3 linked regions of the Homo sapiens genome follow. The protein of the gene in region 1 purifies or fractionates together with the protein of each later gene. This does not show direct contact. Each region holds a gene or a part of one and is shown on either strand. Other genes may lie near its edges. The genes, in order: TSSK4, WDR3 and ACACB.

Evidence for each region.
Region 2: the proteins of TSSK4 (region 1) and WDR3 purify together in Homo sapiens (affinity purification with mass spectrometry; one large-scale study listed by BioGRID and IntAct). This does not show direct contact.
Region 3: the proteins of TSSK4 (region 1) and ACACB purify together in Homo sapiens (affinity purification with mass spectrometry; one large-scale study listed by BioGRID and IntAct). This does not show direct contact.

The regions. Positions count from the first base shown.
Region 1 is NC_000014.9:24,204,291-24,208,606, forward strand, and holds TSSK4 (testis-specific serine/threonine-protein kinase 4), read left to right. Parts: upstream 1-1,405; 5' UTR 1,406-1,633; coding exon 1,634-1,858; intron 1,859-2,218; coding exon 2,219-2,433; intron 2,434-2,825; coding exon 2,826-3,219; intron 3,220-3,601; coding exon of another isoform or gene 3,602-3,673; coding exon 3,674-3,856; 3' UTR 3,857-3,958; downstream 3,959-4,316. UniProt on the Homo sapiens protein: Serine/threonine kinase which is involved in male germ cell development and in mature sperm function. May be involved in the Cre/Creb signaling pathway. Phosphorylates CREB1 on 'Ser-133' in vitro and can stimulate Cre/Creb pathway in cells.
Region 2 is NC_000001.11:117,963,759-117,967,063, reverse strand, and holds the end of WDR3 (WD repeat-containing protein 3), read right to left. Parts: 3' UTR 3,266-3,305; coding exon of another isoform or gene 3,126-3,265; 3' UTR 521-3,125; downstream 1-520. Other genes in the region: SPAG17 (sperm-associated antigen 17), read left to right, coding at 311-455, 3,126-3,265. UniProt on the Homo sapiens protein: Part of the small subunit (SSU) processome, first precursor of the small eukaryotic ribosomal subunit.
Region 3 is NC_000012.12:109,122,959-109,126,610, reverse strand, and holds part of ACACB (acetyl-CoA carboxylase 2), read right to left. Parts: intron 2,466-3,652; exon of another isoform or gene 1-2,465. UniProt on the Homo sapiens protein: Mitochondrial enzyme that catalyzes the carboxylation of acetyl-CoA to malonyl-CoA and plays a central role in fatty acid metabolism.

The sequences.
Region 1 (4,316 bases):
GACTTGGGATGGACAGACTGGAGTGGAGCAGAAGGCTGGCGGGGGCCATCTGTTCGATGATGGAGGCGTGAACTAAGGGATTAGCAGTGGGCTCAGAAAACCATGAGAATATTATCAAAGAGAGAATCAGGAGGTATAAGAGATAGGATTTCGTGATAGATTGAATGTAGGGACTGAGGCAGGAGGGTCTGGGATGACATATGAGTGTCTAAATTAAGGGTGATTAGTGTACAACTCACAGAAAAGTCTGAGAGAAGAAAATAAGTTCAATTATTGATATGGTTAAGTTTGAGATGGATATGGTAAGTTCCATGCCTGGGGCAGACATGGCCACGTAATACTGGCTGCTCTATCTAAACTCCAGATATATGGGATGGAGATGAAATTAGGAGCAGTCAGCATAAATGTAGTATTGACACCATGGGTATGGACAAGATTAAGGGAGGATGTGAAGGTTTGAGAAAATAAAGCTTGTGATGTAACACTTGGGATATGATTAAGGGATGGATAGAGAAAGATATAACTTCAGTGAAGGCTGAGGAGTGACCAGAAGGATGTGGAGGAAAACTAGAGAGTTCTGGCTCATAGAAGATAAGGATGCATTTCAAGGTTAGATTTTCCTAGAACATGTTCAATACCTTACAATGGTAATACTTTCACACTCGTATTTCTCATGCTGCATTATAAGCTTTAGGATCATAGTGTCTCTATTGGCCTTATTGAACTAAGGGGGCTGCAATGGGCTCGGAAAGCCTTGAGTGTATCATTAAAGAGATAAGTAGGAGATAGCAGAGACAGGATTTGATGAAAGATTGTATGTAGGGATTGAGGAAGGAGGAAGGGTCTGGCATGACATTTGGGTGACATTTTATCCAAGTATTCAGCACAGTGTCTGGTACTTAGTAGGTACTCATATATCAATGAAAGGTCTGATCTTTAGGAGTTTCACCAGACTGTGGAAGGTGCCTCTGGGAATGAGTACGTTTCCAACTGCACTTCATTCTCTTTTTTTTTTTTTTTTTTTTTGAGACGGAGTCTCGCTCTGTCGCCCAGGCTGGAGTGCAGTGGCGCAATCTCGGCTCACTGCAAGCTCTGCCTCCCAGGTTCACGCCATTCTCCTGCCTCAGCCTCCCAAGTAGCTGGGACTACAGGCGCCCGCCACTACGCCCGGCTAATTTTTTGTATTTTTAGTAGAGACGGGGTTTCACCGTTTTAGCCGGGATGGTCTCGATCTCCTGACCTCGTGATCCGCCCGCCTCGGCCTCCCAAAGTGCTGGGATTACAGGCGTGAGCCACCGCGCCCGGCCGCACTTCATTCTCAAGTTTTGTGGCCAACGATGGATAGGAGGTGGATTGTGATGTATTCGGAACATGGGACCTTGAGGAGTTCCGTAACCAAAAGGAGAAAGTAACAACAGCCAGTGGAGACAAAAAGAACTGCTTCTCTTTCTTTCCCCCTCCAAGTTCCTAGTGGAGGGCTGAGTCCAGCATCCCAGACTCGTGTGACTATATAGGCAAGCATTTGGGGACCTACTTCACTTTGATACCCTAGCCTTCAGCAGCTCAAGGTGTTGGCCTTTGGATAGGAGGCTTCCAAGTAGTAAAGCTCCCTGCTCTCAGCAAGCCCAACACCATGGGGAAGGGAGATGTCTTAGAGGCAGCACCAACCACCACAGCCTACCATTCCCTCATGGATGAATATGGTTATGAGGTGGGCAAGGCCATTGGCCATGGCTCCTATGGGTCGGTATATGAGGCTTTCTACACAAAGCAGAAGGTTATGGTGGCAGTCAAGATCATCTCAAAGAAGAAGGCCTCTGATGACTATCTTAACAAGTTCCTGCCCCGTGAAATACAGGTTGGAAAGGGGGCTGGAAGAGGGAACTGGAGCTTGGTACTAAGCTGCTTGAGGTTTCTCAGAAGGGGTATGGCCAGGAGGGGTGGGGCCAGAAACCCCTAAACCAGAACTGAAATGTCTCACTAAGCAGCTAGGAAACTTTATGTAAGTTAAACCTCTTTCCCATCCACCCACTCACCTTCAGTCCCCAAAAAGTAAAGGCACAAAACATAGCATTTGCCCACAGGCCACCAGTTCTCTGGGGTTGAGGGGCTGATCCTATTGCAAAGTCCTAAGTCAGTAGCTGAGGGTAGGAGACGGCTGGGAGTGCAGTCAGGGTTCTCCCTTCCCAGGTTTGATGGGTCCTTCTTCTGGGGTCAGGTAATGAAAGTCTTGCGGCACAAGTACCTCATCAACTTCTATCGGGCCATTGAGAGCACATCTCGAGTATACATCATTCTGGAACTGGCTCAGGGTGGTGATGTCCTTGAATGGATCCAGCGCTACGGGGCCTGCTCTGAGCCCCTTGCTGGCAAGTGGTTCTCCCAGCTGACCCTGGGCATTGCCTACCTGCACAGCAAGAGCATCGTGCACCGGTGAGGGCGCTGCCACCCAGACTGGGGCCTTTGCCCTCAAGGGGGTTTTATGCACATCTCCCATTTCCTGTCCTTTTTTCCTCTTTCGAACTCCCTCCTCAATATCTAGCCTATTCATGCACTCTATTTTAATCATATGGTCAAGGATACTGATAAAGTACTCACTGTATGCAAAGCATTTTATGAAATACAATGGTGAGCTCCCGGTGGTCCTCAGATACCATCCTCTGTCTCTCTCCCTACTTTGGGCTCTGCTCACAACTCCATGGCTTTCCTTCCTCTCTACCTTGTGCCCTCATAATGGTTTCTACCTCCCACTTCCTCTGTCCTCATCTTTACCCTCTGACCCCTGGCCCTTCAGCTCCCAGTCTAAAACTAAGCCCTCTCCCCAGCCTGATGCCCAGCCTTTCTGCTGCTGGTAGGGACTTAAAGTTGGAGAACCTGTTGCTGGACAAGTGGGAGAATGTGAAGATATCAGACTTTGGCTTTGCCAAGATGGTGCCTTCTAACCAGCCTGTGGGTTGTAGCCCTTCTTACCGCCAAGTGAACTGCTTTTCCCACCTCAGCCAGACTTACTGTGGCAGCTTTGCTTACGCTTGCCCAGAGATCTTACGAGGCTTGCCCTACAACCCTTTCCTGTCTGACACCTGGAGCATGGGCGTCATCCTTTACACTCTAGTGGTCGCCCATCTGCCCTTTGATGACACCAATCTCAAAAAGCTGCTAAGAGAGACTCAGAAGGAGGTCACTTTCCCAGCTAACCATACCATCTCCCAGGAGTGCAAGGTACTGGCTACCTAAGGAGGGCTGAGCCTTCAGGGATGACCCACAGGGAGGGGTGAATATCCAACCTAGGTCACCCAACCTAGGCCTCCCAACCCTGGGGAAAGGCTCTTCCCACACCAGAGCCATCTCACACACTAGCTCCTGTCCTATAATAAACAGTATGGAAGGCATAAAGGGCCAACCACTAGGCTCCAAACCTTGCCTGATACACAGGTTCCAGCTTCTTTCTCTTTAGGCCAGAAGGGAAATATGGAAAGCATTCCTCCCAAGGAACTCTTCCCTTCCCCTCCAGGGAGTTAACTGCCTGGGTCTCCAAGATAAAATCAGAGCCACACCCACTTTGACCAGAGTGGTATGATGGGCTATCCTGCTTCTTTCTTAGGTCCAACTGCTCATTGCCTGTGTGGCACAATGGAGAAAAACTCAGGCAAGACCTCTCTCTCCCCTGCTCTAGAACCTGATCCTCCAGATGCTACGCCAAGCCACTAAGCGTGCCACCATTCTGGACATCATCAAGGATTCCTGGGTGCTCAAGTTCCAGCCTGAGCAACCCACCCATGAGATCAGGCTGCTTGAGGCCATGTGCCAGCTCCACAACACCACTAAACAGCACCAATCCTTGCAAATTACGACCTGAAAATGGCTGAGGGAGGGGGCTAAGAGAGGAGCAAAGCAGGAGGTCTTGGGCTAAAAATCTTTTTTACCAAAAATAAATCTAAGTCTGATTTAGTTTCATCAACTAGGGTCAAAGACATTCTTTTCTCAAGGCAATCTTATAGCAGGGAACACTGCTGGAGTAAGAGATAGATTTCTGCCCAGAGCCTGTAACCAATAATCTTGACACTGTGTTAAATCAATAGTGTAATTCATGATGTGGCTCTTAGGGGATGGGGTGCTCAGATTAACGCTCTATTTTGGGAAGCTTTATTATTCAACTCAACATATGCTCATTATTTTACATCTTTGTGCTGTTTAAATGCTCAAGTAGTGGGGTAAAAGCCCTGGTTCTTCCACTTTGATTATGGCTCTGCCTGTCTATAGTCCAAAGTAATGGCACTGTTAGTTCTTTTAGAAATGGGTATTCGAGCTGGGTGCGG
Region 2 (3,305 bases), on another chromosome or scaffold:
TATTGCAAAATTTTGCCTTCAGTTCCACTTCCAATAACCTGGCATTTAGCTTCCTTATGCTTTTTCCTAAATAGCACCTGGTTTGCCCCTTCAACAATTTACCCTGGCTCCCCTTTACTTAATGGAATTCTACCTTCATTATGAAGTAATTCCGCTAAATGCTTATAATAACTACCATTTGTTAGTGCCAAATTTATAGATGAAGAAACCAAAGGTAAGAGAGTTTAAGTAACTTGCTCAAATTCATATTATTAAAAGCAAGGTTTGAACTCAGAGTTGTCTGGTCCTAAAGCTACCTTGTGTCTTATAGGTGGCAGCTGGTATGCAGACAGAACTGAATATAGAGTTATTTGCCACAGCTGTTGGAGAGGATGGGGCCAAGGGATCAGCACACATCTCTCACAATATCGAGATTATGACAGAGCATGAGGTTCTGTTCCTACCTGTGGAAGCAAATATCCTTTAAAGTTCAACTTGAGTAATCATATATAGTGCAGAAATTACACGAGTGAGGAAAACATGGAAGTCAAAATGCATCTCTACTTTATTAATTCTATCTTCAAAATCAGAGTTAAATTTATTAAGACAAAGAGCATCTTCATTCATCTTTGAAAGCACCTAGCCAAATCTAAAAAAATACCTGACACATAGTATATGTGCAGTAACTTCAGATTGAATAAATGTAAATGTTATTGGCTATCTACGGAATATCAGACAGAATAATAAAACAGCAAGTATCTATCACAAAAAAATTATAATTTTATGGAAGGATAGGAAATACCTTATTATTATAAAGGTTGGGTATTCACTGAATTATGCATGCATTCCTCCTTATCAGTGTCTTCAGCCAAACAGATATTAGATAGATATCAAGAACCTATTACCTCCAAGGTACTGTATAAAATAGTTTATCATATATAAAAATGGATAATTGGACTCTGTCTTAAAAGGTATTATATAATTTGTAGCAGAAATAAAGTCTTCACATTTTATTTCTATTTTGTACTTTCTCCAGTGGCATGAATTGTGTGCTGCTTGTGTTACAGTTCTCTATTTATTTGATTTTTGAGCTGGATCTTATAGAATGTGAAAACTTGATTGACGGGAACTTTAAGTAAAAATAATGAACAAAACCATGGCAACAGGAAAGCTCCAGGTGTTTGGGATGATTGGCAGGGAGTTCAACTTGCCAAAAGCTTGAGTATTAGGAATATAGTGGGAAAGTAGGTTGGAGTCAAGTTATGAAAGATCTTAAATCCTTGGCTTGAATTTTATTATTTAAGCAGCAGTGAACCACTGCAGATTCCTGACCCTGTGGGTGACATGATCAGCATATCTTTATTAAGATGAATCCAGGGTTATTGTGCAGGACATGTCAAAGGGGAACAACTGGATGTGTAAAAGTACCATTAGAAGTCTACCTGAATGGGCCATGTGTGAGGACAAGAACTGGGAGTGGGGGAACAGTCAACATAAAAGAGGGACATGAATGAAAGACATGGTGGGGGAAGGAAACTGCAAAATCTGAGGTAGAAGCCATTGATGGATGGAAGAAAGAGGACATCGAGTTCAACTTCAAAGTTTTGGGCTGAGGTAATGAATCATGTATATGTAATATTAGATCTCAACTGAGAAGTCAGAATTGGAGATATAATAATTTTAAGCATCGTTTACACAGAGGTGATGGCTGAATGTATGGGCAAGGAACAGAAATCTGGAGTCGGTTTAGGGAGCAGGAGGAAGAAGAGCCAGTGGAGACAAAAGCAGCAATTAGAAAATGGTGAAATACTTCAAAAGCCTTAGGAAGAATTTCAAGGAAAAGACGGACACAATTGACGGATGCTATTGAGATGTCAAAGAAAATTCAGATTTAAAGTGTTAAATTTGGTTGGGATAAAAACTAAATTGCAAAAGGTAAAGAATGACTGTATTAAGAAAGCAGAAACATTAGTTATGGATATTCTTTCAAGAAAATTTATTAAAGGAAAGAGCAAGAGAATATGTTACTCAAGGATGCAACAGAATATAGGAAGGATTTTCAGTTTAATGTAGACCTACATGTTTGTAGGCTGAAGAGAGTGGAGCAGAAGATATATATTAAAAATATGAATGAGTAGAAGTGATTGAAACTGCAATATCCAAAACAGGGCAAAAGAATAATAAAAAACAGAGCTGAAGGGTTAGTCTTGGCAAGGGAGAAGCTGAAGATAGCTGATGATTCAGATATTCCGAGGTGAAGGAGAAAGTTAAAGGAACTTGTGTCAGATAGCACTGATGTCAATAAATGAAGTTTAGTTCATTTGTTCATTTATGCTTTCAAAGATGCCGAAACGCCTGCCTTTATGTAGCTTACATTCCAGTGGGAGGACAGACAATACATAAAGTAAGTAAACCATAAACAATGATGGCAGTAAGTACAATGGAGCAAAATATAAAATAGGAAAGGAAAGTCCTCACTGGGAAAGTCTCTCTCCCTTCCTCTCACCTTCCTCCCCTCCCTTTTTCTCTTCCTTTGAGTAATGACAGGGTTTTTCCATTGTGACAGAAGGAAACTAGCCAAAGAACTAGTTTTTTCCTCTGGTAACTAAATCAAGTGCCCTTACCCTCTCCACACAGGTTATTAGATGCAAATACCTGAGTCACTGCTGCTGATCATAGCAATGAAATCATTTGTATTTATAATAAATTTTCTATTTCCCTGCTTATAGATTAGAGAGAACCTGTCAGACACAGATAAAGGGCAAAAAATCTTATCAGATCTTTTATCTACTTACTTACAGTGTCAACAATGATCTGTCCCTCTCCCCACCAAAAAAAAAAAAAAAAAGCATGAAATCTGATGTAGATATGGTTTGGGGCTTGACCATACTGATGGCTCCTTATAGAAAGCCAGTCACAGTTAGGAGAGAAATGTACACTAGGGAGAACAGAAGACATTCTAGACATTGGCATATCCATCCTCTAACCCCCAAGCCTGAGCATGCAGAATTTGCATTGGATAGACAGTTACCTAAAATTGAACTGATGTTGCCAGAGAAGAAATTCTATGATTCTAAAATGTTATTTAGGTTTATATATGCAAATAATTTAGTCATGAAAAGCACAGCCCTTAACAAGTATTTTACCTGTTTTAACAAGCAGCAATTATGATAAACGACCAAAAGACTTTCCCCAGGGAAAAGAAAATCCAATGGTCCAGAGAACTTCTACAATTTATTCCTCCACACTTGGAGTCTTCATGTCTCGTAAAGTTTCTCCACATTAGGTACAGTAAGTAATAAATGGGAATTTGATTGTCAAGCATT
Region 3 (3,652 bases), on another chromosome or scaffold:
CTGGGATCAAGCAATCCTCCTGTTTTAGCCTCCCAAATAGCTGGGACTACAGGTGCACACCACGACATCTAGCTAATCTTTTTTATATTTTGTAGAGATAGGGTCTTTCTGTGTTGCCCAGGCTGGTCTTGAACTCCTGTCCTCAAGCAATCTTCCCACCTCTTCCTCCCAAAGTTCTGGGATTACAGGCATAAGCCACCATGCCTGGTTCAGATCAAATTCTTGATGTGGTGAATCTGCCATCCCAAGCAAAACTGGCCTGAATGGTTCCAGATCGGCCCCTGCCTTGAAGGAAGGTAAGAGGAGCCGTTTTTCCACCTCCAATGGAAAACATGTTCCGCAGTCTAAAGGCCTATCAGTCTGATCTGTCTGGCTAGCCTCTCACTTGAATTATCCCTGCAGAAATTGCTGAAGTCCACTGTTCAGCTCTCCTAAGTTCTGGTCCTTGCCATCTTCACAGGTGGAATCCTATCCTTCTTCGCTTCTCCCCCTGCTGTGCTGTGAATTTGCCTTCTTCAGCCATTCACTCATTCATCAGCAGGTATTTCCTGAGCACCTGCCAGGTGTGGTACACGCTGCTGGAGACATGGAGCAAACAGGCAGGAATGGCCCAGCCCTGCCCTCGTGGGTTTATGATCTCACTGGGAAGCAAATAAAATCACAAACCTGAGGGCACAACCAGGAGAATCGCCATGAACTCGTGATGGATCAGGTTTTGCACCAAAATGTAAGTCATTTTTGAGTGTGAAACCAAGAACCCTCTGGGCGACACAGTGCATTGGTTAGAGCACGAGATCTGGATTCAGGTTCTATTTCTGCTGTTCATTTCCTGTGTGACCTTGAACAAGTTTCCTCACCTCTCTGAGCTTGGGTTTTCTCATGTATACAATGATAAGGAAGTCTTCCTCATACAGTTTTGGAGTTTAAGTAAACTAATACAGATCAAGTCATTGATGAAAGAGTGTGCTACCATTTATGGTGCTCTCCATCATGTACCAAGCATTGCGCTAAGTGATTTACCTAAGATCAAGTTCAAGCCACTGTTATATCTCACTTGGGCCACTGCGAAAGTCTCTTGACCTGTCTCTCTGGCCTGGTCTTGTCCCTCCAGTTCATCATGCACAGAGAAGCCAAGGCGATCTTGTAAAAATTCCACAGACATCGTTAGTGTCCAGATTATAATGTCTCTAAGAACATTTCCCACTGAAAGGAACCAGGACTCCTTGGAGAAATGTCTGATTCTAGGGCTGGGGCAGAAATGTACATGATGAGCTGAGATATCTTCTTGCCTGAAAACAAGGACCCTCCAGGGGCATGGGCTACCAAAGAGAGGCTGCAAACGGATGATGACTGCAGTGGATTGAAACACATCAAAATATCTTTAAAAACCATAAGGTCGTAACACCCCTCAAAACAAAAACAACTCGTTGATACTTTTCATGGCTGCTAGGGCTACTCATTACTCTGAAAATAGACTTAGCCCCGCCCACACACAAAAAAAGGACATAATCAACCATGTACTCTGCCTTTCAGGGACTGTATTTCAGGGTAAGCAAATGCTTGAGGAAAGTCGTGTGGTAGAGAACAATGAGAGTTGGGCCGGGCACAGTGGCTCATGCCTGTAATGCCAGCTCTTTGGAAGGCCAAGGCGGGAGTATCGTTTGAGCTCAGGTTTGAGACCAGCCTGGGCAATGTAGTGAAACCTCATCTCTATCAAAAATACATAAAATTAGCCAGGCATGGTGGCGAGCGCCTGTGGTCCCAGCTACTCAAGAGGCTGAGGCAGGAGGATCGCTTGAACCTGACAAGTTGAGGTTGCAGTGAGCCAAGATTGTGCCACTGCACTCTAGCCTGGATGACAGAGAGAGACCCTGTCTCAAAACAAACAAACAAAACCAGAAACAACAACAACAACAACAAAAAACAACAAGAGCTAATAAGCACAGAAAGATTGACGGAAGTAGAAAATCACTATAGTAACGAAACAATAATCTGGGCTTTGCTCATCAGCAGGCAGTAAAGTCATTCGGCAAGAGGGTGATAGGGAACTTTACGACGGAGGTCAGACTGATACCCTAAACTCACTAATGAACAAAAATCACTAAAAGTGGGGTAACTGAACTTTATGTTCTTGACGTGATGCAAGAGAAAACAGAAAAACACCTTCAAAGTATTCCTGCTAAGGATCTGCACCTGAATTGATTCAAGCCTCTTGACCTAGTACTTATTTATAGGTATAGAAGAACATGTTAGATGACACTTGGAAGATGCAATCAGCCAAATCCAGAATATGGAAAATTCTACGGGACAAATGACCCAGTTTCAATAAGTAACTGGCATTTAATAAAGGGAGTTGCTGATTATTACAGATGAGGAGACTTAAGAGAAACCCTGTGGGTCCTGATTTGAATAAAACCATTCAAAGACATCTTTGAGCCACCTGGAGGACAGTCAGCATGAACTAGGTACTAGATTAAGGAATTATCATTCATTCTGTTAGATAGATATAATTATGGCAATGGTTTAAAAAAAAAACTTGTGTCTTTTAGAAATGTGTGCTAAAGTATTACGGGCAAAACAGTGTGACATCTAGCTGTGAGAATTGCTTGAAAATAGTCTGGGGGCCAGATGCAGTGGCTCACATCTATAATCCCAGCACTTTGGGAGGCCAAGGCAGGAGGATCGCTTGAGCCCAGGAGTTCAAGACCAGCCCGAGCAACATGGCAAACTCTGTTACCTAAAAAATAAAAATTAAAAAAAAAAAATTAGCCAGGCGTGGTGGTGTGTCCCTGTAGTCCCAGCTACTCTGGAGGCTGAGATGGGAGCCCAGGGTAGTAGAGGCTGCAAGTGAGCCGAGATTGTGCCACTGCACTCCAGCCTGGGCGACAGAGTGAGACCCTGTCTCTTTTCTTTTTTTTGAGACAGGGTCTCACTCTGTCACCCAGGCTGGAGTGTAGTGGCACAATCTTGGCTCAATGCAACCTCTGCCTCCCAGGTTCAAAAGATTCTCCTGCCTCAGCCTCCTGAGTAGTTGGGATTACAGGTGCATGCCACCAGGCCTGGCTAATTTTTGTATTTTTTGTAGAGATGGGCGTTTTTCCATGTTGGCCAGGCTGGTCTTAAACTCCTGGCCTCAAGTGATCTGCCCGCCTCGGCCTCCCAAAGTGCTGGAATTACAGATGTGAGCCACCACGCTCGGCCTAAGACCCTGTCTCTTAAAACAAACAAATAAACAAACAAACAAAAAAAACTCTGGAGCTCTAATTAATGACATGCATGTTGAAGTATTCAAGGATAAAGACACTGATATCTGCAATTTACAGGTGACAAATACAGAAAAATGGTAATGGCAGAATCTAATCAGGGGTATATGGGCACCCACTGTAAAATTCTTTCAACTTGTATGTTTAAAAATTTTTTTTTTTTTTTTGAGATGGAGTCTCGCTCTGTCGCCCAGGCTGGAGTGCAGTGGTGCGATCTCGGCTCACTGCAAGCTCCGCCTCCTGGGTTCATGCCATTCTCCTGCCTCAACCTCCTGAGTAGCTGGGACTACAGGCACCTGCCACCACGCCCGGCTAATTTTTTGTATTTTTAGTAGAGACGGGGTTTCACCATGTTAGCCAGGATGGTCTCGATCTCCTGACCTCGTGAT